Linked DNA regions of Homo sapiens: regions 1, 2 and 4 are each linked to region 3. Evidence: fine-mapped expression QTL. A gene starts in region 3. Each other region holds a variant in brackets. All regions are shown on one strand. Distances are from middle to middle.

Region 1 (8,110 bases), 130 kb before region 3:
ACCTTTGAATTGGTTAACCTTTAATTGTTTATAAAATAATAAGATGGGAAACAAAGTTGCTACCTAATATGTTAGTTTCCCCAAATAAACACTTATTTAAAGGTTCATTTGTTAATCAAGTATCTGGAACTTGAAATACATTTTTATGAAAGGAAATACATTTTAGGTGATGATTAGGTTTTTATCAAGAGCTGAAGTTTTTAATAATGAACAGGGAGAGATACTGTGGCAAAACAGTAATTGAATAAAACATACATTCAATAAAATGATATGAAAAATCAATGTTTCACATTTATCCTGAGTCAAATATAGAGAGAATTAAATTGAGGACGACAAAGTGTAGTTTCTAATCATTGTTCCACCACTATTTGACCTTGAGCAAATTGCCTGGAGACCATATTTGGTAGACAGATGAGGATGTACACTTTCTTTTAAATACTTGAGAATTAGCTTAAGTGCTCTCATTTGACAACTTGCTCAGTATTTCATAAATGCCAGGAAATTAGCTCAAATCCTCTGATGAGCTGCATTTTCTGTGTTCAATTTGTATAAATTCAATAAATATTTATTGAGGGTCTTCCATATGCTGGGTATGTGTCTTAGCAAAATAGTTTTAAAGTACAATATGAAAGATCTGATGCTCAATAGTATATCATTAGTGAATTGCAAATTAAAATCTAAATGAGATATCACTATATATCCACTGGATTGTCTAATAGTTTAAGTTGTCAGTATTAAATATTGAGAAAAATGTGGAGCAGCTGGAACACTCATACATTGCTAGTGGGAGATTAAAATGGTGCAGCACTTTGTAAAGCTAAACATATATTTACTATACTACCCAATAATACCACTAAGTATTTACCAAGAGAAAACAATTTTCTACACGAAGACTTGTACATGAATGTTCACAGCAGCTTTATTCATCATAGCTAAAAACTGGAAACAACTCAAAAACATGTAAGTAAATTGATGAACAAATTGTGGTATATCAATTTAATGGGATACCATCCAACAATGAAATAAATCAATGAATGATAACACTGATTGACATGAATAATCTCAAAATCATTATCCTATGTTAATGAAGCCAGACACAAATGAGTATTTCGTATATTATTTTATTTGCATAAAAATTTATAACAGGAAAATCTAATCTATAATGGAAAAAAGTAGATTTGTGGTTGTCTGAGCTAAGGGGTAGAGGAAGATTGACGGACTGCAAAGTGCAAAAGGGAACTCCTTGGGGGTGATGGAAATAGTCTATATCCTGATTAGCAAGATGGTTACATGCATGTGTACCTTTCTCAAAACGCATAGAACATACACTTAAAATGTGCAGTGCTGGCTGGGTGCAATGGCTCACACCTGTAATCCCAGCACTTTGGAGGCCGAGGCGGGTGGATCACCTGAGGTCAGGAGTTCAAGACCAGTTTGGCCAACATGGTGAAACCCCATCTCTACAAAAATACAAAACTTAGCCAGGCCTGCTGGTGGGTGCCTGTAATCCCAGCTACTTGGCAGGCTGAGGCGGGAGAATCACTTGAACCCGGGAGGTGGAAGTTGCAGTGAGCAGAGATCGTGCCATTGCACTCCAGCCTGAGCAACAGAGAGAGACTCCATCTCAAAAGTAAACAAATAAATAAATAAATAAAATGTGCAGTGCTTCAGTTTTCTGAAGATTTCCAGGAGCTTCGGAGGAATTAAACAACCTTTGAGGTAATGACAGGAATTTGAGTTGAGAAACCACCAGCGATGTCAGAGGGATTTTCAGAACCCATGAAATCAGTTCACAAGAGAAAGGGAACACTTTCATCTTTTAAGAAGTCTGCTTACAGTAATATCAGTCATGTATGAACTTGAAAGAGAGGCTTTTCCCAGACTTTCAAATGCCAGAGCTGCCAAAATCTGAGTTCGGCAAAAATGAGGAGGGCAGGGGGTCAAGTAAGAGATGCGAAGCCAACCAGCCTTCCCACTGCCTCCCAGACTGCAGGTTCCCACCTGCTTCTCTGCAAAGCTTTAATTACTAAATTGAGACCCTCTGACTCTATTGCCTAGTGGTCATGGGGGCTGTTGGAAATGTCATTCAGTAGCAGGAAAACGTTTCCCCATTGAATAAATTTTAAAGGGAAAAGTGAGAGAGAAAAAAAGTAGTGTCTTAATTACAATATGTTTGCTATGCTAGTGCAACTTCCAGACAAACAAGTAACACCACCAATCACCCTCACTCTCCTCCTCTCTGGTTCCAATTGGATTGCCTAAAAAAAAAACTTGACGCCGCCACCATCTCAGTCAATTAATTTCGTAAAACTGCAGATGCTCGTGCTCCTTGCTTTGAAGGATGTATGTGGGGAGGGGGAGATGTTACAAATTAAAATGGTGAGGAAGGTGTTTTAAGAAGAGCAAATAGAAACTGTGCACATGTAAATACATAAGTAGCAGTTAATAGTGTTAAGAAGCATCAGCCTTTCCTTGTTCCACTGAGCACAGTGATAAGGACCTAAATCTCCTGACATGAAATAGTAAAGACTCAATACCACTCCATCCAAAATGGAATCCAGTCTCTGGGAAGAAAGAGGAAGAAAGGATAGATTGAGGAAATTGATGGATGGAAGGGGTGAAAAAGGAAGCTAGCAAAGAAAGAAAAAGAAATTCCTAGATTTCCATCTGAGACAGGTTCTATTTGGGCTAGCTGGTGACATGATGAAAAAGTTTTTAAATGTTTGCACCATTTTCTGGACCCCAAATGCCACTCTCCAGAGATACTGTGTAGCCCAATTGACCAACCCAGAAGATCTGAGCTCTTCACAATACTGATCCTGGAACCCGGACTTCCTGTTTCGTGAAGGACCAGAACTTGGTATCATGCATATGTATTATTAACCCTTTAACTACTAAAGACCATGTTTCTTGTGAATATTTTTATTATCACTGAAATCACTGAAGGAATTAAGTTGCCTCCTTTGAATCTTATCAGATTCAAATAATGTCAGTTAGTAGCTTAACAGAAAAGTAACTAGAGATAATTTGAACCAAAACAGAACCTATAACAAATGAATAATGGAACAGTAATAATTCCAGAGTTTGCTGTGGAATAGAAAATTATTTCAAAAGGAATTTCTAAGAGGAAAATATTTCTTCTAACTAGGGCATAGAAAAATATACAAATGAAAAGGTTTTTTTTCCGTGTACCTGAATCTAAAAGGAGTTATGGTGCCTTGATAGCCACTGGCTATTTAAGCTAAAGGGAACAGTGTACATGGTTTATTTTCGCTCTTCTCCGGCATTTAAATTCTGTGTGAGTGTGTGTGTGTGCACATATGCGTGTATGCATTAGACTTGTTAGATTGCTCTTATTTTCCCCAAAAGGCACCAATTGGTAAAATGCACAGGCTTTTCAGTAGGACACACCACCTGATTCTTACAACACACACACACACACACACACACACACACACACACACACACTCCACACTGTCTTCTTACGGTTTGGTTTGGATTTTGCTACTTTTAAACATTTCCAATCTTTCAGTCTGTAGCTTCTTTCCTTTAGATAATTTACATTTTATTGGCAATATGTTTTACATTATTTAATCACCATTTTTTAAGTCATTGTAGTAGGGACGTTTAAGGCCAGGCCAACCTCATGCATAAAAAGATTCAGCAAGAGATTTGCTGTCCTGTGCTTCCCACCACATCTGGGTCAGGCCCCTGCAAAGCAAGGTCATGGGAATGTGGCTGCTGTCTGAGTTTTTCCTTTTCTAGCCCTTAGGGG[C/A]ATGAAGGTCCTTTTGGACATTGAGTTGAAAAAGGTAGTAGTATTTATAACAAATCTAAATGGATTCATATGATTCTTACCCATGCTATTTTAAAACTTCTTTTAAAAGTCAGGCTGAGCTCCTATGGCAAGTGGTCACTTTGTTCATACTGACATTTTTTAGAAAATACCTTAGGGTCTCATGTGAGTAAGAAGTAGATTGCAAGAACTTTGAGAAAGGAACACAGCTAAGGAAGGGGTAAAAGAAAGATGAACTGAAATTAAAAACAAATGTATTCTGTAAAATTTTTTTAAAAGGTAGAGATACCAAGAAATCAAGGGGGAAACATGCATTGTTGCATTCTTGCTTTCACTTCATTTTCTCACATGGATGATATAGAGAAATCAACCGCTAATAAGAATGAAGCCACTTACTATGACATATTATTTTTAACTCATGAAACATTCATAGTGCTTCATATCTCAAAAATATATTTTACATCTTTGCAAATTGTGCACCTTTGCTACTGTTTGTCTAGCAATAGGCCCGTGGTACCCCCAAAGTTAACAGAAGGAAAGCATGTAATAAAAGACAATATTATAAACTAAAAAGTAATGAGAAATGATAATAAAACTAATCAGAATCTACCTTTATTTGATTCCAAAAACTCCTTTCTCCTTACTATTTTATTTACCCCAGTGATACATGTTTCTTATTCTCCATATCAGGAATTGTCATATTCTCCCTGAAATGGTTAGGCTTTTTGTCCCCACCCAAATCTTATCTTGAATTGTAATCCTCATAATCCCCACATGTCATGGGAGGGACCTGATGGGAAGTGATTGAATCCTGGGGTGGTTTCCCCCATGCTGTTCTTGTGATAGTGAGTGAGTTCTTACGAGATCTAATAGTTTTATAAGTGTCTGGCATTTCCTCTGCTGGCACATCTCTCTCCTGCCGCCCTGTAAAGAGGTCCCTTCCGCCATGATTGTAAGTTTCCTGAGGCCTCCCCAGCCATGTGGAACTGTGAGTCAATTAAATCTCTTTTCTTTATAAATTACCCAGTCTTGGGTATTTCTTCCTAGCAGCATGAGATCGGACTAATACCCTCTCCTTATCTCATTTTTAATGATAAGGTCGAATTCTAATCCTACTAGTGAGAGACAGGACTAGCTGGATTTCCTAGGCCAACTAAGAATTCCTAAGCCTAGCTGGGGAAGATGACCACACCCACCTTTAAACACGAGGCTTGTAACTCAGCTCACACCCGACCCATTAGGTAGTAAAGAGAGCTCACTAAAATACCAATTCGGTGAAAAAAGAAATAGTCAAATCATCTATCACCTAAATGCACAGGGGGAGGGACAATGATCAGGATATAAACTCAGGCATTCAAGCCGGATTGGGAAACCCCTTTGGTCCCCTCCCGTTGTATGGGAGCTGTTTTCACTCTATTAAATCTTGCAACTGCACACTCTTCTGGTCTGTGTTTGTTCCAGCTCGAGCTGAGCTTATGCTCCCCGTCCACCACTGCTGATCGCCACTATCGCAGACCTGCCGCTGACTTCCACTCCTCCGAATCTGGAAGGATGTCTGCTGCACTTCTGATCCAGAGAGGCACCCAATGCTGCTCCCGATCGGGCTAGAGGCTTGCCATTGTTCCTGCATGGCTAAGTGCCTGGGTTCATCCTAATCGAGCTGAACACTAGTGGCTGGGTTCCACGGTTCTCTTCCGTGACCCACAGCTTCTAATAGAGCTATAACACTCACCGCATGGCCCAAGGTTCCATTCCTTGGAATCCATGAGGCCAAGAACCCCAGGTCAGAGAACAAAAGGCTTGCCGCCATCTTGGGAGCAGCCGCCACCAACGTGGGAGTTCTAAATACAAAGACCCTCCGGTAACACTAGCATCATGGAATAGAGGAATTACAAGTGGTAGAGGAATTTTAATGCCATCTAGTGTTTCCATGTGTATGAACCATACTGCAGGCCACTGCTCAAACCCACCTTTAGCTCAAGCTGTTTTCTTCATTCTCACTCCCTACTGCTTTGTAGGGAAGCCACTGTAGCTGGCACAATGGCCCATTGACTGGATAAGGGATTGGTAACTAGCCCAAGAAGAGCTCATCCCTAGGCCGTGTTAAAATAATTAATTGGGAAACCATCAAACTGAGGTGGCTCTAGTCCCCTGAGTTCCTACATGCGAACTCAAACCCAACTCAGAGGGAATGGTCATAGCCTAGGAAAATGAACTTAAGCTTAACCAATCAGAAACTGCCAACTAACCTCTAACTAGGGACTTTAAGCCTACTTTAGCCAATCAAATGTTTTCTTTGTCTTGCTTCCGAGAACACCTAATAAAACTTTTTCCGTTATTCCCCTTCAGTGGAGCCCAACCTGGTTGTGGTTTGGCACTGTGAATTCATGAATCACTGTCTGCTCAAATAAACTCTTTAAAATGTTAATGTGCTTAAGTTTATCTTTTAACAGCTGGCAGCCTCCTAGGAGGAGGTGTGGTTCAACAAGCTGTGCTCAGTGGAGGCAAAGGTATGTAGCTAAGCCTGTCAGACTCACTTGTTCTGGAATTTTCCCCAGAGAACTCAGTGACTAACCAGTCAGTTGCAAGAGAATAATGAAGTAGCCCTACAGATAAAAGCTAAGATTCCATGAGAAAAAGATCACGCTGGCCATGACAGACAGAGAAAAGAAAAATCTAGGGATACTTGGAATCTTGACAAATTTTCTAGTCCTAGATTCATTACAAAAATTTTTCTAATCACCACTTTCCCCATTCCTAAAGAAGCTCAAGTAGGTTTTTGTTTACTCACAAGCAAAGGAGAACACCTAGCATCCTTTCTATCCTTCGTCATCCCCTACAATGTCCTTGCCCAGTGGTCACGCTCAGGTTTAAATATCTCTAGTAATAATTTACCACTCAGTTTATCCCAAGACATCTCTAAGTAATTAGGTTTTAAAGCCATTGGTTATATTGAGTGAGCCTTTCAACCTCTGAGTCTTTATTCTCTGGCTACTTAAAGCACTGTGAGACTCAGTATCCTCTCATTATTCTGATCCCTCTCAATTGTAAATGTCCCAGTTGATCTGTAACTTTCCTCAAATTGTGGCTTCCAGAGCTGAAAACAATAGTCCATGTGTGGTGTGACCAACACAGATGGCCTGGATTATTGTCATCCTTGTTCTGTGTAATTTATTACAAGTACTTTACCTGACTGTGTTAGACTTTTTTCTCAGCCCCATTAAATTGTTGCATTATTTAAACTTCTTGTTAATTAAAAGCAGTATTAGAAATGAGTTGGAGATAACACACATGTTCTTACCTTGCACCTATACAGTTGGTTTTTCAGATTCAAGGTCAGGATGTTATATTTGTAAGTTAAACTTCATTTTTGCTAGGCTAAATTTCACGTTTCCAGCCTTCCATCAAATATCACTGACCACCCACCCCACCCTCTTATGATCATTACTTCCTCTAAATTGCTCCAACAAATATATCTATTTCACTCATTTGGTACATCTCTTATTCTACCTAATCAAGTTAGTCAACTTATAATGAACATTGGTTCCAAACTATAGAGCATACATATCTTGTTTTCAGAATCTATAGAATGCCACACACACAATCTTTATTGGTAACTAGTAATGATCAAAAATGAGAAATGTAGGCATATTCAATAGATCCTACATTGTTTTCCTAATCACAGCCTGTGAGCTTTCAGATATGTTACTGGGGCAATTTCAGCATTGGGTCTGATTTGTGAAACCTAGCACATTCTTTCCCCTCCTTATAGAGGATGAGTAGATAATCCTTTTGAAATGTGAGTGGATAATGTATAACTTCAATTGCTAGTCTTTTGGGTGTCCTTAGCATCTTTTTAATACATTTCTACTAAACACTTCTAAGATAGACAGTGGTCTGTCACAGGCAGTTGAGAAGGGCCATTTGGCTTGAGCTTTCAATGTTTGAAAAGCCTCAGATTAGTGATGTTATATCTATGAAACCACCTTTGTAAAAATTGTATCAGTAAGAAAATACTGGCAGTGGGGGAGATCCGATCTAGCCACCCAGCTTTTGCCTTAACCCTTCAAGCTGTCCTTAGTTATTCCTGGACTTGGGCGAAGCTAACTTTGGGAAACATTTAGTTTACAGTTTAAGTGATAATAGTCCTTCCCATAAACTCAACTGCTTTTGTAAAGCAAAGGAAAGACCACCAGGCTAAGAGGATAGAAGAGCCTGAATTCTGCTAAGGTGCAGACATAAAGGATTGCTAGCCATTATTCTGGAGATTACAAAATATACAACTTCCCCAATTACTCCAGCAAATAGCATCACTAC
Region 2 (8,110 bases), 310 kb before region 3:
GGCTGGAGTGCAGTGGCGCGATCTCGGCTCACTGCAAGTTCCGCCTCCCGGGTTCAAGCTATTCTCCTGCCTCAGCCTCCCGAGTAGCTGGGACCACAGGCGCCCGCCACCACGCCCGGCTAATTTTGTATTCTTAATAGATACCAGGTTTCACCATGTTAGCCAGGATGGTCTCAATCTCCTGACCTCGTGATCCGCCCGCCTCGGCCTCCCAAAGTGCTGGGATTACAGGAGTGAGCCAGGTGATGAGTTTTAAATACAAAACCATTTTGTATTTAAGCGGCACATTCCATTAAAGAAATAAATGATTTGTATTTTATTAAAATTAAAAGCTGCTGTTTTACAAAGATATTCTTAAGAGAATGAAAAGACAAACCAGCAACTGGAAGACAATATTTGCAAAGCACATATCTGATTTAAAAAAAAAAAAAAAAAGACTGGGGCTAGGTGAAGTAGCTCATTCCTGTAATCCAGCACTTTGGGAAGCTGAGAGGGGAAGATCATTTGAGCCCAAGAGTTTGAGACTGGCCTGGGCAGCATAGGGAGACACTGTTTCTCCAAAAAATAAAAATAAAAAAATTAGCCAGGCATGGTGTAGTGTATCTGTGGTACCAGCTACTCAGGAGGCTGAGGCAGAAGGATTACTTGAGCCTGGGAGGTCGAGGCTGCAGTGAGCCATGATCAGACCACTGCACTATAGCCTGGGCAACAGAATTATACCCTGTCTCAAAAGAAAACAAAACAAAACAAAACAACAAACCAGTGTCCAGAATATCTAAAGAACTCTTAAAACTCAACAATAAGAAAACAAATGACCCAATTTAAAACTGGCAAAAGATCTGAACAGATACCCCACACGAGTATATAGTACAGGTGGTTATTAAGGAGGTAAAAAGGCACTCGACATCATTTGTCATTAGGGAATTGCAAACTAAAACAACAAGGAGTTACCACTGCACATCTGTTAGAATGACTGAAAAATGTATCTGGCAATACCAACTTCTGATGAGGATGCAGAATAACAGGAACTCTTGCTTATTGCTGGTGGGAATGCAAAACTAGACAACCGCCTTGGAAGACAGTTTGGCGGTTTCTTACAAAATAAACATAGTCTTACCATATGATCCAACAACTGCACTTCTAGGTATTTAGCTGATCAATTTGAAAACTTATGTCTTCACAAAAAACCTGCATGTGAATATTTATAGCAGCTGTATTCATAATGACCCCAAACTGGAAGTAACCAAGATGCCCTTCAATGACCCCAAACTGGAAGCAACCAAGATGTCCTTCAATAGTTGTATAGATAAATAAATTGTTATGCCCATACAATAAAATATTACTGAGTGATTAAAAAGAAATGAGCTATCAAGATACAAACAAATATTAATGAATATTAAATGCACATTTCTAAGTGAGAAAAAGCCAACCTCAAAAAGCTACATACTGTATGATTTCAATTACCTGACATTCTAGAAAACACAAAGCAACAGAGATGATAAGAAAATAGTGTTTTCCAGGGGTTCATGGTGAGGGATTATCTAGGTAAAGCAAAGGGGATTTTTTTTTAGGGTGAGAACCTGTTCTCTAAGATTCTATAATGGTGAATATGAAACTTAATGCATTTGTTAAAACTCATAGACCTTTATAACACAAAGAGTGAATCTTAATATATACAAATTAAAAAAAAAATCTTTTGTGAGGTTTGGGGATCCCAGGAAGAAATGGAATATGTGACAAAAATATATACATGTATTGCAAAATATGAAATGACCTCACTGTAGGTGGTGGGGTAATAACATGCTAACCTAAGTAACTTTGGAAATGAGTGGAGTCTGTAAGACTAAAGGTAAAAGGAACAATACCCTAGTTGATAAAGTTGTTTCCAATGGTAGTATAGATTAACAATCCTGAAACCACTGTGCATGTGTACCAGTACTGAGCAATTACAAACATGTGTATCTCCTTGTTCTGTCAGCTGAGAGGGCCTAGAAGCAATGACACCCCAGTAGCAACAAACACAGCTAGCACTCAGATCTTGGTTTCTAATACCATTTTCCAATAAAAAGAACTAGGGCTCCTTGGAGAAATGGTTGATTCTAGGACTGCGGCAGAAATTATAAAAGATGAGCCTGGAGCATCTGATAGTACCTAAAACTAAGAAAGTGTTAAAAAACAAAAAAAAATGCAACCCACAACCATGGTGTATGTCAAACTGTTACAGGTGTCAACTGAAAGAGCTTCCAGTGGCCAAAGATGAAGCCATTTGAACAAATAAATGAAATATCATTGAATTGTAATCCAAAATATAAAATGACTATCCATGACTACATGTTAATTGAAATGATTGAATAATTAAATAAAATATGAATGGACAAATATCCTATGCAGAATAATTTCAAATAATTTTGGTATATACTTAAGATCATAACTGCGGGTTCCTTAAATGTGGTCTGTACACAGTGACTTTATTTCAAAGAGCACATATGGAAAAGGAAGAAAAGGGAGTAAATTTACAGTAGAGAAACCTAACACTACCTCAAGACAGGTGGTGAAAGTTAACATCAAGAGTGATAAGTCATAGTGAGTGATAAGTATGTACCCTTGGCATGATGTGATGTGATGACAGTGACATTTTACCTCTGTAGTCTTCCACCCAAAAATCCATAACCTAAATATAATCATGAGACAAACATTAGACAAATCCCAATTGAAGGGTATTCTATAAAATATCTGACCAGTAATCCTCAAAACTGTTGTGGTCATCAAAAACAAGGGAAGTCTGAGAGATTGTCACAGCCAAGAGGAGCCTAAAAAGACATAACTACTAAATGCGATGTGTATCCTGAATGGGATCCTGGAACAAAAAAAGGACATTAAGAAAAAAACTGAGGGCTGGGCACGGTGGCTCTCGCCTGTAATCCCAGCACTTTGGGAGGCCGAGGCAGGCGGATCACGAGGTCAGGAGATGGAGACCATCCTGGCTAACACTGTGAAACCCTGTCTCCACTAAAAATACAAAAAATTAGCTGGGCGTGATGGCAGGCACCTGTAGTCCCAGCTATTTGGGAGGCTGAGGCAGGAGAATGGTGTGAACCTGGGAGGCGGAGCTTGCATTGAGCCGAGATTGCACCACTGCACTCCAGCTTGGGCGACAGAACGAGACTACATCTCAAAACAAAACAAAAAAAAAGAAAAAAACTGATGAAATCTGAATAAAATAGTAACTTTAGGTAATAATAATGTATTAAGGCTGGGTGCGGTGGCTCGCACCTGTAATCCCAGTACTTCAGGAGGCCAAGGCAGGAGATTGCTTGAGCCCAGAAGTTTCAGACCAGCCTGGGCAGCGTAGCAAGATCCCATCTCAATTAAATAATAACAATATATCAATATTGAAAATGGCATGGAATGTATGAAGCCTGTACTATCCTCATACTTTTTCTGTAAATAAAAAATTGTTATAAATATTAACTTTATTTTAGAAAATTCTACAAAACCAGCTAATGAAATGGTTGATTCCCCACTCTTTGTCTGTTTTCTGGCTTTTAATTTTTTTTTTTTTTTTTTTTTTTTTTTTTTTTTTTTTTTTTGAGTCAGAGTCTCGCTCTGTCACCCAGGCTGGAGTGCAATGGCACAATATCGGCTCACTGCAAGCTCCACCTCCCGGGTTCACGCCATTCTCCTGCCTCAGCCTCCCGAGTAGCTGGGACTACAGGCACCCACCACAACGCCCAGCTAATTGTTTTTTTTTTGTATTTTTAGTAGAGATGGAGTTTCACTGTGTTAGCCAGGATAGTCTCGATCTCCTGACCTTATGATCCGCCCGCCTTGGCCTCCCAAAGTGCTGGGATTACAGGCGTGAGCCACTGCACCCGGCCTTAATTTTTAACTATTGATTCTTGCCACTTTGTAAAGAGTAGAAATATGGTAATGTCAGAGCCAAAAGTGTGTGGTTGCTAGCTTTCTGCCATTCTAAATGTCCGTAAATATTTATTTGCATCTAAATTTTCTATCGGTCTTCCTAGTGAATTTCATCTGATAAGTTTCACGGTGGGCAATCACCTAAAGTGTTCTGGAAATTAAAGCAAGATAATTCGTCACAGATAGCAGCTTTGGGTTTTGAAAATTCCTATAAGTCAAATAAATTGAAATTGCTGTAATTTCTAAACTGACCCTACCTCCATTTCTCTCTCTTATAGCCAGTGTCCAGAAGGATACATCTGTGTGAAGGCTGGTCGAAACCCCAACTATGGCTACACAAGCTTTGACACCTTTAGCTGGGCTTTCCTGTCTCTATTTCGACTCATGACTCAAGACTACTGGGAAAATCTTTACCAGTTGGTAAGGTCCAAATGAGCATGCATAACATTTATTTTTATAGACATGTATGAAATGAAAAGCATAGGCTGGGTGTGGTGGCTCATGCCTGTAACCCTAGCACTTTGGGAGGCAGAGGCGGATGGATCACTTGAGTCCAGGAATTCGAGACCAGCCTGAACAACATGGCAAAACCCCATCTCTACCAAAATACAAAAATTAGCCCAGCATGGTGGCGCCCATCTGTAGCCCTAGCTACAAGGGAGTCTGAGGTGGGAGGATCACCCAAGCCCAGGAGGTGGAGGTTGCAGTGAGTCGAGATCATATCATTGCACTCCAGCCTAGATGACAGAGTAAGACCCCATCTCAAAAAAAGAAAGGGAAAGGGAAAGGGAATGGGAAAAGGAAAGGGAAAGGGAAAGGGAGAGAAGGGAATGGAAGGGAAGGGAAGGGAAAGGACCTGCTTATAACACTCTGGAACACAGAGGAAG[G/T]TCCAACATAAAGCAAGTGTGCCAGGAATCCTAATTGCTCACTGAGTCAGTACCTATATATGTACACTGAGGACTTTTTTATGTGAAAGGCATTCTGCTAGGAACTTGGAGATGCTCATGACTCTTAGAAGTTGATAATCCAGTTGTTGGTATATAAACAGCACGTTAAAAGATTTTAAAAATCAGTGATGTTGATGTGAAAATTTCAAATTAAAGCTCTAGCTATTAACTGAGACTAGAAGGGGAGGGGAGCAAAAGTCATCTATAGATGGTATGGAGAATAGCTGCAGTGCAAATGGAATCCCACTGAAAGGATTTAAAGGTTCAGTGCTCTTACTTGTCATATTATTGCTCTGCATATGAACTCTAATAAAAGCATTATAGTGGGGCTCACATATATATCCACTATATATGAGTTTAAAATGTATTTATATCCAACAAGACTGCAGTCAAGCCTCAAATAATCTGATTCTTAATTTTGTGTGTTGAGCATATCAATACCAAAAAATTCTTGGTGAAAATAAACTGGATACTAAAAAGCTAATTAGTCTACTGACTATCTAACTGTGGTAATCAGATATTTATTTGGGGACATTATACTAAAATACTGATGGAATTATCCCCCATTTCCCCTAGACATTACGTGCTGCTGGGAAAACATACATGATATTTTTTGTCCTGGTCATTTTCTTGGGCTCATTTTATTTGGTGAATTTGATCCTGGCTGTGGTGGCCATGGCCTATGAGGAGCAGAATCAGGCCACCTTGGAAGAAGCAGAACAAAAAGAGGCCGAATTTCAGCAGATGCTCGAACAGCTTAAAAAGCAACAGGAAGAAGCTCAGGTACTGAGTGATAAAAGCAAAGATTTATCATTATTATTATTAGTTTCTAAGTAGAAATAGTGTTATACTATAGAGGGTAGATTGGAACTGCTTTTTCATTTTATATATAGGCATTGTCATTAGAAAAAAAAGTATTCAAATATGAACTTGTTTCTGAAGTTAGAGTCTAACAAACTTTTTAGCCACTGTATATAAAGAAATCAGCTAGCGGATAGAAAATACATTAGAGATAAGGTTTACTATGGAATTGTCTCATAGAACCTAAGAGAGGAATTTAATTTTTTATTTAATTTAGAAAAGAAATAAAACTGATATTTCCAATTATTAGTGATTCACCCCTAATTATGACATTTGAGATTTTGTTCTGAAGTTAATTGATTTTAAAGGTTGACAAGAGACTTTATATATACCTATGCTTAACAATTCTTTGGGATTTCTGTAGCAAAAAAAAAAAAAAAAAAAAATGTTTGCTATAGCCCACATCAGGATATCAGGAAGGTATCTAAAGTTAGATGCCAACTTGAGATTTTTATTAATATTAAAGGCTGTGTGAGCTAGGGGTATAGTGAATGGGACATTAATGTGTTGAGGAGAAGAGACGGAAACACAGTACTGTATTAAAAGACAGAAAAAAAAATCCATATACTGAAAGGTGAAGACTCACGAATATATAGTAAAAATCTGATTCATGCCAGTTAGAATTATAATTTCTCAATATTTTTGCCAACATTTGGTATGGCCAGTCTTTTTAATTTTAGCCATTCTAATAAGTATCTCATTTCTGTTTTGATTTTCATTTTCCTAATTACTAATGTTGAGCACCTTTTTCTGTTCTTATTTTCCATCTGTATAGCTTCTTTTATGAAGTGGTTGTTCAAATCTTTAATCCCCTCCTTTTTTTTTAGTTAGGTTGTTTGATTTCATATTATTGAGTTTTGAGCATTCTTTGACTCTTTGGGATGTAAGTCCTATATCACATATATGCTTCTCAAATATTTAAAGTGCAGTTTATCCAGAGTATTATTTCTTAGCTTTTTTGTTTAAATCATTCTTTTGGATCTAAGAAATTTTTGCCAAGTCAACACCATGAGTATTTTCTTCTAAATTTTCTTCTTAAGTTAGTTTTATGCTTTATATTTAGGTAAATAACCCATTTTAGTTAATTTTTGTATAACATATGAGTGATATGTTGAGATTCACTTTTTTAAAATGAGTATCTAATTATTCCAACTGCATAAAAACAAAATATTCATTCTCCACTGCATTGCCTTTGAACTTTTGTCAATTATTAGTTGTCCATAGGTGAGTTTGTCTATTTCTGAACTCTATTCTGTTTAGTTTATTTGTCATTTTTATACCAGTACCACACTCTCTTAATTCCTGTACCTTTTATGACGAGTCTTGAAATAACATAGTGCAGGTCCCCAACTTTTTGTTCTTTTTTTTTTTTTTCAAAGCTGTTTTGGCTGTTTTATGTCCCTTGTAGTTCTGTATGAGTTTTTTTTCTAAGTTTCATATATATATATTTTTTATTATACTTTAAGTTCTAGGGTACATGTGCACAACATGCAGGTTTGTTACATATGCATACATGTGCCATGTTGGTGTGCTGCACCCATTAACTCGTCATTTACATTAGGTATACCTCCTAATGCTATCCTTCCCACCTCCCCCACCCACCAGTTAGAATGGCGATCATTAAAAAGTCAGGAAACAACAGGTGCTGGAGAGGATGTGGAGAAATAAGAACACTTTTACACTGTTGGTGGGACTGTAAACTAGTTCAACCATTGTGGAAGACAGTGTGGCGATTCCTCAGGTATCTAGAACTAGAAATACCATTTAACCCAGCCATCCCATTACTGGATATATACTCAAAGGAATATAAATCATGCTGCTATAAAGACACATGCACACGTATGTTTATTGCGGCACTATTCACAATAGCAAAGACTCTATATGAGTTTTAAACTCCATTTGTCAATTGCAATTTGAATGATTTCTATTGCTGTCTTCAAGTCAATTATCTTTTCTTTTGAACATTTAATCTGCCGCTAATTTCATCCAGTGTATTTGTCATCTGAAACATTGTAGTTTTCACCTCTGCAAGCTTGATCTGTGTCTTTTTTATATTTCATATATCTCTAATTAACATTGTGAACATACACAATACAGTTATAACAACTGTTTAAGTTCCCTGTCTGCTAATTTGAACATCTGTGTCACTTCTTGGTCAGTTTTGATTAATTTTTCTCTTTATTATGGGTCACATATTCCTGCAGTTTTATGTTCCTGACAATCTTCAATTGAATTCCAGACACTGTCAATTTTACTTTTTTTAAGTGCTGGATATTTTTGTATTCCCATAAAAATTATTGATCTTTGTTTCGGGACATAGTTATGTTGTTTACACAGTTTGATCCTTTTGTATCTTTAAACATTTGAAAATTTGTTAGGCA
Region 3 (8,110 bases):
AGCATTTATATAGGGAACATCAAATTCTAACAACACTTTCTATGTGTTAATACATGTAGGAATACTCAAATTATGAAAGCACTACACAGAGATGAATGGATAATTAACTATTATGCATATATTACTGAATTGAGAATAAAGCTACAATTCTGACTTTCAGCTCCCTGTTTTCATCAACAAAGTCTTATGCATAAATAACATAACATATTTTCTGAGATTGGGCAGTTTCTATGAAATACAAAGTCTGAAATAAGACTTTTATTAAAACTGAAATGTAACAACTCTGATCTTGTTATATAAAACCACAAACACACACATGTACACAATCTAAGAAGACATAAAATAAACACTTCCTTTAGGTTGTAATGTGCAAAGGTGAAATGCACAGAAAGATATTAACCATCTTTTAAGTGTAATTTTTCAGTTTTAAATAAAGCTTTTCAAGTGGTACTTATAGTGGAATAAAAACATACTTAAAATAAGCATTTAAAAATGTTTTCATTATTCCAAATAGTTTACAAAAATTTTAGACAAACTCCAACCATTATGGCCCACTTTAACATGCCTATCTGCTTTTTATATAAGCACACAGGTATTTATTAAGCATGTAAACCTCCTTTCCATTTATTACTATCCAGGAGGAATATGAAACCTAGATTATTATTCAGAGAGATATATAGCTAAGTGGACCTTCATTTAGCTTCATTCTACCCATTGATTTTGGTACTAACCCCATTAGGTAACCACGTGAAGAATAAGTCTTCTTTCTCTAGTAAGACAAACTCACCTTCCATCTGTTCCATTTAAAATGGCCTACCAGCCCCTTTGAGTTGAAGTCTTTCCCTGAATCAAGTTCCTTTTAGGATTCTTCTGAGGAGGGAAGGCCTGAAGGTTTCCTTCATTCCTTTATTCAGTACACAAATACTGGTGGAGAGTCTCCTGTGTTCTGGGCTATGCTTTCAGGAGACAAAGGATAAGACGTGGTCCTTTAAGAGTAGGCTGGGCACTGTGGCTCACGCCTATAATCCCAGCACTTTGGGAGGCCGAGGCAGGCGGATCACAAGGTCAGGAGTTCAAGACCAGCCTGGCCAACATGGTAAAACCCCATCTCTGCTAAAAATATAAAAAATTAGCCGGGCACGTGGCACATGCCTGTAGTCCCAGCTATTCGGGAGGCTGAGGCAGGAGAATCACTTGATCCTGGGTGGTGGAGGTTACAGTGAGCCAAGATCATGCCACTGCAGTCCAGCCTGGGTGACAGTGAGACTCTGTCTCAAAAAAAAAAAAAAAAGAGAATAAACCCCTCCAACTCTGCATTATGTAAATGAATAACTGAAACAAAGTGTCATGGGTCCTTGCCCTACCTAACAGAACCTACTGGGGGCCAAGAAAGGGAAGGGCTACTTCTATTTCTGCAATGAGGGAAGTATTCCTGAGGGGATAATACCTATGCTTAGGCACTTAAAATGATCGGCTGGGTGGTGAAATGAGGGGGAGATTCCCAAACGGGGAAATTGAGCGCAATCTTGGAAACGTGGGCAATTTTGAAACAGCTCTGCATAACTAGAAAGATTGGAAAACAGCAGTTTTCTCCTGTTATGTGAAAAGATTTATAGCAGCCAGGCATGGTGGCTTATGCCTGTAATTCCAGCACTTTGGGAGGCTGTGGTGGGCAGATCACCTGAGGCCAGGAGTTCGAGACCAGCCTGGCCAACATGGTGAAACCTTGTCTCTACTAAAAATATAAAAATTAGCCAGGCGTGGTGGTGGTCACCTGTAATCCCAGCTACTCGGGAGGCTGAGGCAGGAGAATCACTTGAACCCCAGAGATGGAGGTTGCAGTGAGCCGAGATCGCATCACTGCACTCCAGCCTGGGCAACAGGAACAAGACTCCTTCTCCAAAAAAAAAAAAAAAAAAAAAAAAAAGATTTATAGCAAATCTGTGATTATTATTTTGCTAATCACTGGCTACAGTGAGGATAGCTTAGTACCATTATGTGAAGACCACCAAGCTTGGTGGTGCTCTTAAGTGGTTTTGCCCAACATGAGCTTATTTCTTGCTTATGTGGATTCTGTTGTAGGTCCTGGGACTCTCCAGGGCAGCTGTGCTCTGGGTAATAGTTTAGCATTCCAGTCTTGTGTCACCTTCATTTTAATACATGCTTTCATGATTGCAGTAGCAAAGGAAGGGAACATAGAGACTCAAACACTGGCAGTAATTTCACCAGGAAATAAAGCATTTCATGTCTGTTCACATTTCCACTTATCAAAGTCACAGGGTCATACCTAATTTCCATGGGGTGGAGCATATAGTTCTCCCTAGGACCAGAAGGAGGACAGCAAAAAGTGGTAAGCACTGAAAATGCCTTCAGTGGTTACGAAATGTTATGAATGTTTTATGACTAAGATTAGCCTAATCTTACTGGTATTAGGGTCCATAATATTACTAGTATGTCATAAATTAAGGCTGAAACTAATTAAAGATTTAATCTTGTCTTGTGATTGAAAGTTATGGACTTTCAAGTAGTTTCACTGTTACTCAATATTTGCATCATTGTCTGTGCAAGCAACTGTAAAAGCTTGCACAGCTCTGTATTCAGAAGCATAAATGATTCATGAAATTGTTTAAACAGAGTTATTGTTTAAAGACTAAAACCCAGAGGTATTTAAATAAATTGCTTTACTCTTAGTTAAAATCTCTAAAAGCAACTTTTTCTAATATGGTTCCAGTATTGTAATCCAAATGAGCCATGTGTTTTTTTCTTTTCATATTTAAGATGCACTGAAAGGACATTATGCACTGAAAGAAATAAATACCAATGCCTGCGTGTGGTAGACAAATGGCACATTGCTAGGCATTTAGTTCAGCAATCTTTTTTTGTTGCTGCAATGGATAACCAACTAAAGGAGCATTAATATCAATTTAATTGTAATACCTGCCAAATGTTATTCTATCAGTGGCTAACACAGGTTTATTACTTGATGTTAGTGCTACAACAGAAGTCCCCTGCAGGATGTTCCTTCCTGTAAGATCTCTCCATCAGTTTAATCCAAATATGTTTTTAAAACTCTAATTTTAAATTCATTTCTTAATGTCACGTTGTTTTCTGAAAACACATTTTTGGGCCCATCAGAATGGCGCGCATCTTAAAACAATTGGCGCTTATGAAAAATATAAAATATGTAAATATATTAGGGTGGTGCAAAAGTAATTGCGGTTTTGTCATTACTTTTTAAAAAAAAAAAAAATGGCAAAAACCGCAGTTACTTTTGCACCAACCTAGTACCTGTCTGTCAGGTGTAAAGAATCATCTAAAGGGCATGCACGTGGATACTAAAACGTACAAACAAGCACACAGCTGTGTCTGATTCCTTTACCCTTGTAAAAGTTCCAATAAGTGAATACAATCTATTACTTAATTCTTAGTTTATAGACTGTCATTAGACATACTGTTGTCCAGTTCTCATGTCAGAGCTGTTATAGGCTTTTACAAAAAATGCCTCTGAAGACAGGGCAAGCTTAAACCTGCCACCAATTAGAAAGATCTGTGTCACAGGTGCGCTTTTAAAAGAATGGCAATCTTAAAGGTCAAGTTAAAAACACAAATTTAAAAAAACGATCCTGGACGTCGAGGGTCGGACTCTAGGGGGGGCAAGCTGCAGGCCCCACTCTGCGAGTTTCTGACCGCATTCCGCGGAGGCCCCAATCCTCCCCGCGGATCCTGGCAAGGCAGGTAACCTCCCTTCCCCCGCACCTGTCCGGTTCAGGCGCACCAGCCTTCCCGAAGCGCAGCCTAGCGGTGGGAATGGGAACACCTCGTCTGGGAGCTTTCTTTCGGTTCAGCTTCCCCAGCCGGACCCCAAAGACCCGAAGCCCTGGGGGAAGGAAATTCCAACTTGCTCCCGGCCCACCCCCGCCCCGTTCCTCTCTCCGGCTCGCTGCTTCCCTCGCTCCAATGCCGCCGAGCTGGTCCCCACTTATGTGCGGCCGTGCTGCAGAGGCGGCGGCGAGCTCCCGGACTCCGGGCAGGGAAATGGGGCAGGGTGAGTGAGAGAGCGGGCTCCAGCGAGGCCCCCAGCGCCCAGCCAGCGCCCGCACCCCGCCCGCGGGACAGGGGAGGTGCTGAGTCGGCCCTGCCCGCGCTGGGCTGAGCCTCGCAGGGGTTGCCGCTTCTCCATTCAAGTCCTGGCTTGAGAGCCGAGCGGCAAGAGCGCGGGCCGGGGAAGGGAAGAGTAGGAGAGGAAGCCGCGAGGGAGAACAGGCGAGCTACTGTCTCCTTTGGAAAAGAACGTAGGAGCCTTGGGTGGGAAAAGAGAGATCAGCCCTCCCAACTTCTCTTCGGGAAAAGTTTTCCTAGGGCGTTTTGTTTGTGCAAACTCGGCCGGAGGAGCCTGGGAGTGCGCTGCCGGCGTGGCAGCGGTGCCCGTGCGCCCGGCCCCGCTCCTCCTCCTTTTCCAGCCCCGGCGGCTCCTCTCCCTCCGAGAGGCGCCAAATGGCTACCCAGTAAACCCCACGGGGCGGGGGCTGCAGCGCCACCGCCTCCTCCGCCGTGCTCTGGGCGCCCGCTAGACCTTGTAGAGACGGCGGCGGCGCCCGCGGGCTGGGAGCCGGGGCCCGCAGGTGGAAGCGCACCCGGGAGGCGGGCCGGCCGGGGCTGGAGCGGCTCGGGCGGGCTCTTGACGCTCAGCCAGCTTCGCTCCGGCCTCGGGAAGGCGCGCGTCCCGCCCTGACCCGCCGGCCTCTCCCACCCCAGCAGTGACGCGCCGCCTGGGAGCTGGAGCCCGCGCAGCGCCCCGCAGGGCGATGGACGGCCGAACCCCGCGCCCGCAGGACGCCCCAGCCAGGTAAGCCCAGAGCGCCGCGCCGCCTCTCACCGGGGAGGGCGAGGCCGGCGAGGACAGCGAGGCCTCGGCCGTTTCACCTGGCTGGCAACTCGCTGCCCTGCCGGCGGCCTGACTCACTGACTGTCCTCCACGCGGCCGGGGAGGCTGCTTCCTCCCGGCCTTCTCGGAGGCCGCCCGGGCGGAGGGCTCGGGTCGTTTTTGGTTGCCTTCCTACCGGGGCTGCCCTGGGTTGCTACAGGCCAGCTGAATGCCAGGAATTGGGTGAGGAGTCCGGGAGCAAAAATTGTAACAAAGGGACCCTTGTTTGGGCTCTGGGGGAGCGGTGGACGATACCTGTAAGTGAGCTCCTGGGGAGGGAGGGCAAAAGTTTCCTTGGTCATGGGCTGAGGCCCAGGCAGGTGAGCAATGTCAAGGTGACTGTAGGGAGTGGGCTTTCTGCAGGCGGGTGGAGGGCGACAGGAGGGTGTGCCAGCTGTCAGCCCGCATGACAGTTCCGGGAGCGAGCGGGGTGCGCGCCTCTGATTGGGGGTGTGTGTGCCTGTGGCCAATTGCTGGTTCCAAAACCCAGCGCAAATCAGATTGCAAACAACTCTACTTTTCTTTTTATCCTCACATGTTTGAGAAGAGAGGAAGGGGGCTGTCACATGGTGAGTTAATATTAAATGAGGCATGTCTTCCTGCCAGATATGCTAATAGTTACCTTGTTAAGCGTTTGAGTAAACAGTAATGAGAACAGGTAGTTCTGCAAGAGATGAAGAAAACCTGAAAATAACCTTGGTCTTAGTAAATAGTTCAGGAGTAACCTGGATGCTAGTTGAGTTTCTCAAGTAGGAAACTCGTTTGATGTAGTACAAGATTTTTCCCCCCAGCATAAGTGTTCCTCCAACATAGTTTATTTTCTTAGTTAATCTGAATGCAGAAATGCCCTAATGAGAATACGAGCATTCCAGAAATAGAAACGTTAAGGAAAAATCGACGTTGTCACTAATGAATGAGACTTGTACAGTTTTCCTGATTTAAGAGTGTAGAAGTCATTTTTCCCTGGAACATGACAGGCGTTTCCTTAGAAGCAAGTCACAGCATGTTTATTCATCAGAGACCATGCGAACATTGGCAGCTGTCTAGAGGAAACATGGAAAAGTCTCAAAGCAACATGACTAATCTAAAAGATATTTAGTATAATTTTTACATAGAGGAAACATGTAGTGTATTAATTATTTCATTTTGCTCAAATTAACTTTCTCCTTTCTGCAAATATTACTCCCACTGTTGACTTTCATTTCTTTTCTTTCCCCAGGTTTTTCATTGCTTAAATATTTTCATATATCCTGACATATATTCTCACATTAGGATGAGTAAAGAAATATATCGGTAGAAAGATATTGAGCATACAAGCAAGGTTCCTAAGTGGAGCTGCAAAATTATGTGAATTGACGATGAGACAGCTGTCAGGATACCGAAATGTATTCAGGGATTGCAAAATGAGATAGAATTAAATTGGATTTGGAAATGGATTAGGTTAAGGTACTTTAAAAAACAAAAAAGAAAGAAAAACATACCTGCTTTCACAAAATACACCCATGGGTGTTCAGAAGTCACTGGGGACTTTTAAGTAAAATAGGTGAGGTCAGATGGCTCTGTGTTGAAGAAACAGAAGAACACTTTTTGCTGGCAAGCATAACTGTAGTAAGAACCTTCAGACTTTACTCTTGATATTTTATTTTAATGTAGAGACAAGGTCTTGCTATGTTGCCTAGTTGATCCGAAACCCCAGGCTTCAAGCAATCCTCTCACCTTGGCTTCCCAAAGTGTTGGGTTTACCAGTATGAGCCAGTGCGCCCAGCCACTTTTGAGAATTTAAAGGTTAAACTGATAAGTTCTTTGCTTAAAAAGAAAGTACAAAAGAGCCTTATCTAATTTGTCAAGCATTTGTAAAGGACTTTTGCCGTCCCCTTTTCAAATTTAAGTAGGGAAAATCTGTCAACACCTTATCTAAAATAACACAGTAGTTCTATCATTTTGCCTTACATTATTCTACTCAGAGAAGTTATCATTACCTGAAAAATATCAACATGAAAAAATTACCTCTCTACTTCATTTGTCTTATTTCACTTGTCTAACTTGTCCTTTGGCATATTCCGAATGCCTGTCATATAAGATTTGTTGAATATTTAATATTCAGTATTGCTTCTCTTCTCTCTCAAAAACCCAAATTATAAAAGGTTTAAACTGGGGGAAAAATATCTAGATAAGGGTATTTGGGAAGTGGCAGGCAGAAATCTTAATATGTTATAATTGTTAGGTTTTGGAGATAAATTTCTTGCTATAAAACTGACTAATTATATCATAACTCATTACTTTAATAGACAATGAAGCCTAGTTTAGTCTTTATCCTTGGATATTACTGTTGGAAAGAATTCCTCTGTAATTTTCCAAGTTTTACATTGTTGTAACATGTCATTTTAACATAGCACCAAGTTTTGTTCTCCACATTTTATAAATGAGAATCTGAAGCTCAGAAACACTGAGTGTGTTGAAGTCCCAGCAAATTAGTAGTAAAACCAGAAGAAAAACTCCAAGTGCCTAGTTCATTTTGTTAATTGCTTTTTATCTTTTCTTGACCATGGTATGATATAACATACCATGACGTTATACATTTTAACGGATAACTTATATTTAACCATTAACTCTGTAATATTTTAATACATTTCAGGAAAAATGTAGTTGATATCCTTATCTTCACTTTTATTAATTCTATGATAAATTAGCCCATTCAGGGAATGAGTATTTTAGGAAAATAAAATTGTTTTATGGCCTCTCAGCTGCTGCTTTTTCTTTGAAACATTCTAAATAATAATTGTAACATCAAAAGGGATAGTTTGAAGTTTGTTTGGTGCCTTCACACATTTAACTCGCATTTAGCATTCTACGACATTGTGAATTATATGGGTTGGGTGTCATTTTCTTTTCAGTGGAAGCAATGGTGTGCAGAAATAGTGGCTGCCGTAGGGTCTGTGCTGGTGAAGTCCCTGCCTTAAAAGGGTCTGATCCTGTGGTCATCTTGAATGTCTTTCATTTTGGCCTCTACTGTACTGCTTTAATCCCTTACCATTCTAGATTAGATCCCTTTCTTTTGAGACAGGCTGGAGTCTTGCTATGTTGCCCAGGCTGACCTTGACCTCTTGGGCCCAAGTGATCCTCCCACCTCAGCCTCCTGCATGGCCGAGACTACAGTCACAAGCCACTGTGCCTGGCTTTAGATCA
Region 4 (8,110 bases), 140 kb after region 3:
ATTCTTTTTGCTGCTATGTTGAAGGACTATAGGGAAACAATGTGGAGATGGAGTCTAATTAGGTACTTCCTAATGATGAGTCAGACAACATAGTAGCAGTTAAGCTGGATGTTGGATGTCTTCTAAGGGAAGGGAAAAAAGGGTTGACTCAGTGTGAGATGTGACAGATACAAGATGAGGGTGAATGGAAGGATGACTTGTTCTTTACTAAGACAGGGAAGGCTGTGAGAATAGGATGTGGCAGAGGGATAAAGAGGAATCATCATGATCTCAGTTTTAGACATGCTAAATTGAAGAGGCTTCAGACATTAAGGGGAGATCAGAACAGAGGTCCAAGATAGAGACGTGGATTTGGAATTCATCAGCATGCAAATAATACATAAAGAGAATAGATGAGATCCTCTGGAGAGGGAGCAGAGATACTAAATGGAATGTGTTCACAGACCACACTCTGTGTCACACCAGTGTTGATCAGGAGATGAAGAGAAGCAGACACAGAAAACTGAGTAGCCAGAGAGTACGGATCTATAGAGAGTAAGAAATGTGGTCTCCTGGAAGAAAAATAATGTATTTTAGGAGGGTGGTCAGCTTTGTTTAATGTTGCTAATAGGTCTCATAAGTGAGTTCTGAGAAGTGGCCACAGATTTCTTCATAGTCAAGGTCTTTGGTGACTTTGATAGGAATCCTTTTAATGGATCAAAGGCTGGGAAAAGTATCATTGAAAGGATTCAAGTGGGATAAGAGAAATTGGAGACACAAACTGCAAACAACTCTTTTGTTTATTTATTCATTTTTTCAAGATGGAGTTTCACTCTTGTCGCCCAGGCTCGAGTGCAATGGCGCAATCTTGGCTCACTGCCACCTCCGCCTCTGGGATTCAAGCGATTCTCCTGCCTTAGCCTCCCGAGTAGCTGGGATTACAGGCACATGCCACCACGCCTGGCTAATTTTTTTATTTTTAGTAGAGACGGGCTTTCACTACGTTGGCCAGGCTGGTCTCGAACTCTTTACCTCAGGTGGTCTGCCCACCTTGGCCTTCCAAAGTGTGTGAGCCACACTTTGGAATTACAGGTGTGAGCCACCTGAACAACTCTTTTAAATAGTTATTTATTCGTTCATTCATTCATTCATTCATTCTTGGTAAAGGCAAAGAGCAAAGATGACATGGCATTTGGTCAGGAGGCACTGACCCCTGCTGAAGGAGGATGTCTTAGGGTCTGCTGACAGTCACGGGCTAGGAGTGTGAGCAGTAGCTCTTTGCAGTAGGTGACCTTGAAGGACCTGGCCTCAGGTAGACATATAGATTTTTGCAGTGTTCCTCACTGAAACACTGCAGCTGTAAAGAGGTAGATTTAATCAAGCCAAATACTACTATACAAATAATGTTCCCTTTTTCATCCCTTCCTTTTAATGTCTCCAGATTTTTCTTTAAAAGTTAGGTTTTAACTCTGTTACTTATGAGTCCTCTACATTACAGTTAGTTGTTTGTGTGGCAGTTTCCCATTCTAGCCCAAGTTTCTTGAGAAAGGCCGTATTTTATTTTTCTTTACATATCTATCCCATAGCCCAGCTTCTGTGTGTGGCAGATGCTTCATAAACGTTTTTAAGGAATGACTGTTATGTTCCATTTGGATATATCCTGTGCTTGACGTAAAGTTCAGTGTCTTCCTAAAGTTTGCTACTGATTTCTAAATGTAGGATTTTATTTGGTCATTTTGTTTTCCAGAGTCCCTGTGAAGCAGGAAGAGTGAGGGCAGGTTCACTGCAGCTCAGCAGCATGTCTGCAGGGAATTCATCTTTGAGAAGGACAAAGCGAAAAGCACCTTCCCCACCCTCCAAAATACCCCCGCATCAAAGTGATGAAAATAGTCGTGTGACTGGTAATGTGGTTGTTTCATTAACATTACATTTGTATTGTGTTTTGTTTAATATGGACAGTAGGAAAGATATGGGTATGTAAGTTATGCTTTTTAAATAATACTTAGGCTTTTTAAATACATCTTGATTAGTCTCACTTTGCTGCCGTTTAAAAATCTGAAACATCACCAAATAAAGTGTCAAAATTATACAGCTCCATTATCCTAAGATGAGCATGTCATAATCTGTGAATTTATTCAGAAAGATGCTGCCATTTCAGGATTAGCTGTATGTAGAAAAGGGAGTCTAAGTGGATTTTAGTGTTTTACAGCTAGATAGTAAAATGGCTTCTAGCAAGGCTTACTGCTTTCTGAACTATATAACTAAGTTAAACTGTTAAGGAATTGTTTTATTTGTGAATATGACTTTATAAGTTGTGTTGCTTCTTTCCTTTAGCCTTACAGCCAGTAGATGGAGTTCCTCCAGACAGTGCTTCAGAAGCAAACTCTCCTGAGGAGCTATCCAGCCCAGGTATGACACCCTTATTCTACATGGTGTAATTACTGAAAAAGGACGTCCATGATAATTGAGAAATGAGTCCATTTGCGATGCTTTGTACATGAAAGAGATACAGATTCTTTGGCCTCATTTCCCAAATTTTTATTATGAAATAAATTCTTGCCCCCACCCCTCTGCCCCTCAACCCAATTAGAGTATGAAGCTGGCAGAGATCAAAATTTCAGTTCTGGAATTGTCCTTGAGTACTTTTTCTATGTGGTCTCCTGCTTTCCTTTATGCAGTATCAGGTTAACATTTATTAACCTCCTTCCCAAGTGTAATGACACACCGTAATTAGGAATGTACCTTGGTGTGTGCAGAAGAAAACTTACAGGAAAGTGTAAGCACAATTTCTTGATGCAACTGTTCTAGGTATGAACTCAACATACAAGTTACCCTACTCTAATGGTAAAAATCTGTTACCATGAAAATGTTTTCTGTTGCAGTATATGGCTCTCCTCTAGGATTCTTTCCAAACAAAATTCCATTACAAGTTACATAATTTATAGTAATACTTTTCCAGTGTTTTTAATAATAGCTACTTAGTAGCTTTTCTAAGAAGTATGATAAAAATGTTTTAATCTTTAGAGTTACTATTAGACATCAATGAATGTGATAGACTAGTAATATCATACCAAAAATAGAATATGATTATGCTAGGACTTTATCATGGGGATAATTCTGTAAGTATAAAAAATGCTTAATATGACTCGCCTGATTTTTATAATTTATATTCCAAATACAGGAAACATTTAGGAGGAACACTCTTGAATCTTTCATCTTTAAGTGGTATTTAAGAATTTGGAATTTTAGCATATATATGTAAGAATTCTTCACTCCTCTGTGATTTTAAATCTTACTCTCAGATAACTAGTAATGATTTTTCTCAGCTTTTACTCAGAATAATATAAATGGCACCATTTTTTTCCACAAAGGAAATGTATTGAATAATAACAATTACAACTGTTGAGTGAAATTAGAAGTCACTGAAATATTATAAAAAGGAGTGCATGCTATTCAAACTTTGCTTCATATCTGTTTTTCTTCATTTGTTTTTTTCCTTTTACCTCTTCTTATTTAATG[C/T]ATGGATAATTGTGAGCTAACAAATCTGATTTCTTCCAAAATGCTTCTTGGTCTCTGCTTGCCTTAACTCTGTTGTCTAAGTGCCATTTCTACAGATTCTACTTCTTTGGCAGAAACCTTTCACCCTGGGCTTTCCAGTCAGGAGCAGTGCACTGCGCCCAAACTGATGGAGGAAACCTCTGTCTTTGAGTGCCCTGGGACACCTGAGGCAGCCATAACATCATTGACATGTAGGTGGTCAGGCCTTTCCTGGCTGGTGCTTTGTGTCAGGCAGGTTAAGATATCATCGACTGTAAATTTGATGAGCTATTGAAACCTTGTGTAAACATATTTTATAAAGAAAGAGAAGTTTCCCCTTTTTCACTTGAAATTTTATCTGGGTGTAGAGTTTGTTGTTTTTCCCAACCATACAGATGAATACAACAGAGTGGATTAGTTAAATAAAATCAGTGGTTCCGAAGAATTTTAGCTTCTCTTCTATTTGGCTTATATATACTGAGGGGTCACTTTGAAAACACAATTGAGGCTGGGCATGGTGGCTCACACTTAAAATACCAGCTACTCATGAGGCTGAGGTGGAAGATTGCTTGAGCCCTGAATTTTGAGACAGCAGTGAGCTATGATCATGCCACTGAACTCCAGCCTGGGTGACAAAGCAAGACCTTATAATAAAAATTAAAAAACACATTTGTATCTAAACCATCATGGCCTTTCATTTTTTTTCAATACAGAGTTTTCAAATTATTATTATTATTATTTTTTTTTTTTTTTTTTTGAGGAGTCTCACTGTTGCCCAGGCTGGAGTGCAGTGGCGTGATCTCGGCTCACTGCAAGCTCCACCTCCTGGGTTCACGCCATTCTCCCGCCTCAGCTTGCTGAGTAGCTGGGACTACAGGCGCCCGCCACCACACCTGGCTAATTTTTTTGTATTTTTAGTAGAGACGGGGTTTCACTATGTTGGCCAGGATGGTCTCGATCTCCTGACCTTGTGATCCGCCCTCCTCAGCCTCCCAAAGTGCTGGGATTACAGGCGTGAGCCACCACGCCCAGCCTAGAGTTTTCAAATTATATAAATACGTTCTTAACACATAGATACAATATGCTATCGTAGACACATTATTTCTATTTCACATCATAATAAAGCATCATTTGCCAAAATATGTACATTTGAATATTCACTTAAACCTAAATTTTAAAATATTTTTTATTGAGTAATCTATTTTTATTAATGATAAAAATACCATTAAAATTTCTCATGTTTATTTCTCAAAGAGCACAAATAGCACACTTTTCTGTCTGTATACTTAGAGATAAAATTTTAAAAATATATTTTAAGTACTTTAAATATTGAATTATGTTAAAAATTTAAATTAAATTTTCTGAATGTGCTGATTACTATAATTGGATGCTACACCACCTCCCCACCCCGCCCCCCCCTCCCACCACATCCCCAGCCTTGGGATAAAATTAAATTTCATTCAGATACTGTGGTGTATATGGAAATGTTTAATTATATTTAGCAAAAATCCAGAACCTCACTCTGGCTTACATTTACTTCCATGGCTAATCTTGACAATAAGCATGAACATTAACTGCTCAGGATGCCTCCTTCTCTTTTACCCTGCTGGCTACTGGTTGTTGGTGATAAAATACATTTTTTTTATACAGTGAAATGTTAACCACAGCTATTGAAAATATTTATGTGTAAACATATATATTAATATGGATGATATTTAAGATATTGTAAGTGGAAAAAAAGCTAGGTGGCTACAGTATGCTTCCATTTATATTAAATAAACTAACAAAAGGAAACGTGAGTATGGTTATCAGCCTATGTATGTATATTACACTTTCTCAGGACATACAGGAAAAACTGTTAAAGCAAGTTGCCTCTGAGAATCAAACTGGTTAGGAATAAAACTTAATTTTCATTGTCCAATACTTGCTCTATTTGTATTTTCACAAATTAAGCATCTAGGTCAGTGGCTTTTAACTGAGGTTGCATAGTAGAATCATCTAAGTAGTCTTAAAAATCCCTTGCCCCACCCTTCAGAGATTCTGATTTTGTGGAGTAGGGTGTGAGCCTCAATATTTTTAAAGGGGGCTCAGGTAATTCTCAAGTATAGTTGGTACTAATAACTATTGAGTCAAATTTTATGAGTGCCCTTGTAGACAATACAAAAATCTCATGTGCTTTTCATTTTCACTTTTAAAATTATTAATTTGCCTTTAATTTGCACTATTGAGTTGCTGGATGAGTGTAAAAACCATTCAATTGTAAGACATTTCTTAAATGAAATATTTAACTTAAAGTTTATGAGATTAAATAACCTCTTGTCTCTACCATGAATAAAACCTAGAGTGATAGCAAATTGTTTTGGGAATTATGAGTCTGAGATAATCTGGTTTTATGTTAACGTGACTGCTCACCAGGAGAAAGAACTTCACTATTATTTTTGAGGCAGAATTTAAAAGAGTCCAGCTAATTATTATTTTTCAAAATTCCTTCCTTGCCAGAATTGCATGTGATGAATGAGGCAAATTAATATTTAGGATTATATCTGCATTTCTTTGTAGCTGGAATAAGCTCTGATTATAGCCTTGAAGAGATAGATGAAAAGGAAGAACTGAGTGAAGTGCCTAAAGTTGAAGCTGAAAATATTTCTCCGAAGTCACAAGATATTCCTTTTGTATCTACTGATATAATAAATACACTGAAAAATGATCCTGACTCAGCCCTTGGCAATGGTAGTGGAGAGTTCTCACAAAACTCCATGGAAGAAAAACAAGAAACTAAAAGCACAGATGGACAGTAAGTAGTCTCTGTGCTGGAGTGTTGGTGGCCGTTAGTTTAATTAATACTAGTCTTCTGAAATATAGATCTGATATTTTAAACATAAATATAGTCAGCCCTTTGGTTTTGACTTTATCCTTTTTACCATTATATAAGAATGTTTATTAATGAAGTACTTATTTGCATGTAATTACATTCAAAGAAAATCAAATGTGACAGTTCTAATATCCCTGTGTCAGATAAACCATGAGAAATAGTTTGTGTGATTCAAAAATGAAAATTTTTCTTTTTGTGGGTGTTTTGCCTGTTAACCTATGTGACCTATATGTAATATTTAATTTTCAATTTTTACCAAGTATTCCTGGTGGATTTTCACTGGTATATGAAAACAATTATGCATATTAGAATATGATGTTAAATCACGAGTATTATCTTTGCAGTCAACTTTATGAAACAGAGAATGTACTTTCTGCTTTATTCTAGAAACAGACAGCTATAGTCTAGTCCACTTAGGTTTGAAATGCAACAACATGGATAAAGATGAAATCAACCAAGCAAAATAAACCATATATGTCAGACGTTTATTATAATTTGCATGAGATTGTCTCCTTATTAAACTATTCTACCACCAAAGGGAAAAAAAGATCAGTGAGGTCAATCTACATTCTTATTTATATAGTTGACCTTGCCAGATGAAAAACTAAAATGTTTCATTTAATTTCCTTTTTCTTTAAAAGGCAAATAAATGATAATAGCAAAATAAAGCCACTATTTTGGAAAAGTGTCTATTTTACCAAGCTTCTTTCTTTTTAATGGGACCACCACATGAAAGCTAATGTTTCATAGCAGCATTTCTTCTCAGTTATATTTTTTCTCTGCTATTAAATTTCCGATGTTTGGCAGAAATAAATGATTATTTTAGTCCATCTGTCTTTGGAAATTATTGCCTGTTTCTCATTGTGTGTGTGTGTGTCTGTGTGTGTGTGTATGTGTGTGTTTCAATAGTATCAACATATAACATACAATGTCGTATCTTCCAGAGAACCACACAGTGTAGTATATGATACAAGCAATGGAAAGAAGGTAGTTGACAGTATAAGAAACTTGAAGTCGTTGGGCCCAAACCAAGAGAATGGTGAGTTATATAAATTAATAGCCAACACTTTCTTACTTTTATTATGTGCCAAGGACAGTTCTTAACACTTTATATGTATTAACTCATTTAATCTCCTGTAACTCACTTAATACCTACCTCATTTATGGATATTATGGGTACTATTATTTTTAGTTCCATTTTACAGATGATTGTGCCACAGAGATATTAAATAACTCACCTGAGGTCTCACAACTACTACGGTAAGTGGTGAACCTAGGATTTAAACTGGGGCAATATTGCTCTAGAGTGTGCCCTTAACTACCATGTGTACTACTTTTGTTGTTAAAACATAGAAATTATCTAATTTAGACTTTGGATCTTAAAAATGTTTCTTCTGTGTATCTATTTGCGATCTGTTTCTCTTTTTTTCCATCTAACTTCCTTGGATGAAACTTTTCTGCCTGATTTTTCAAGGCCCAAATCATCTAATAATATAACCTTATTTACCACTGTTTCCCAGTTCCCATCCTCATATTAGCACAACTTATTTTTTCTCATGATGTCATTTGCTTATTTCTATATCATAAGGCATATATTCATGTTGTCTTTGTCTGAAAGACAATTTTTCATCTATTTTACCCATTCAATTTTTATCCAAATCATATCATTTCATGTTTTTACTTGATTATTAGAAGCTTTGCGGTTCTATATTTATGATTCCT

Which allele goes with the higher level. Positions count from the first base shown, and alleles are read on the strand shown. Sizes are in standard deviations (SD) of each study's normalised expression. Not every link is listed here.
With allele A in place of C in region 1, the expression in skeletal muscle of the gene that starts at base 4,179 in region 3 is higher (small effect, 0.13 SD a copy in GTEx).
In carriers of allele C in region 4, the expression in thyroid of the gene that starts at base 4,179 in region 3 tends to be lower than with T alone (moderate effect, 0.55 SD a copy in GTEx).

What was found. PIP is the estimated chance that this variant, and not a neighbour inherited with it, causes the effect.
Region 1: its variant is fine-mapped to the expression of COBLL1 in skeletal muscle (GTEx, PIP 0.95).
Region 2: its variant is fine-mapped to the expression of COBLL1 in sigmoid colon (GTEx, PIP above 0.99).
Region 4: its variant is fine-mapped to the expression of COBLL1 in thyroid (GTEx, PIP 0.99).

Annotation. Positions count from the first base shown.
Region 1 is chr2:164,966,099-164,974,208 of GRCh38, reverse strand. No RefSeq gene overlaps it. Among named protein-coding and RNA genes, the nearest start is that of SLC38A11, 15 kb to the right of the region's middle. The variant C/A (reference allele first, on the strand shown) is at 3,776.
Region 2 is chr2:165,151,993-165,160,102 of GRCh38, reverse strand. SCN3A (sodium voltage-gated channel alpha subunit 3) reads left to right here. Exons shown (of 28, transcript NM_006922.4): 10 at 4,200-4,341; 11 at 5,445-5,651. Among named protein-coding and RNA genes, the nearest start is that of SCN3A, 48 kb to the left of the region's middle. The variant G/T (reference allele first, on the strand shown) is at 4,809.
Region 3 is chr2:164,837,892-164,846,001 of GRCh38, reverse strand. COBLL1 (cordon-bleu WH2 repeat protein like 1) reads left to right here and starts at 4,179. Exons shown (of 14, transcript NM_001365672.2): 1 at 4,179-4,292; 2 at 4,756-4,846. The coding sequence starts at 4,806. It overlaps LOC101929633 (a long non-coding RNA gene), which reads right to left and starts at 5,253. Exons shown (of 2, transcript NR_110574.1): 1 at 5,180-5,253. RefSeq lists a silencer at 3,996-4,205.
Region 4 is chr2:164,698,722-164,706,831 of GRCh38, reverse strand. It overlaps COBLL1 (cordon-bleu WH2 repeat protein like 1), which reads left to right. Exons shown (of 14, transcript NM_001365672.2): 8 at 1,727-1,880; 9 at 2,314-2,388; 10 at 6,076-6,310; 11 at 7,333-7,427. Among named protein-coding and RNA genes, the nearest start is that of SNORA70F, 15 kb to the right of the region's middle. The variant C/T (reference allele first, on the strand shown) is at 3,499.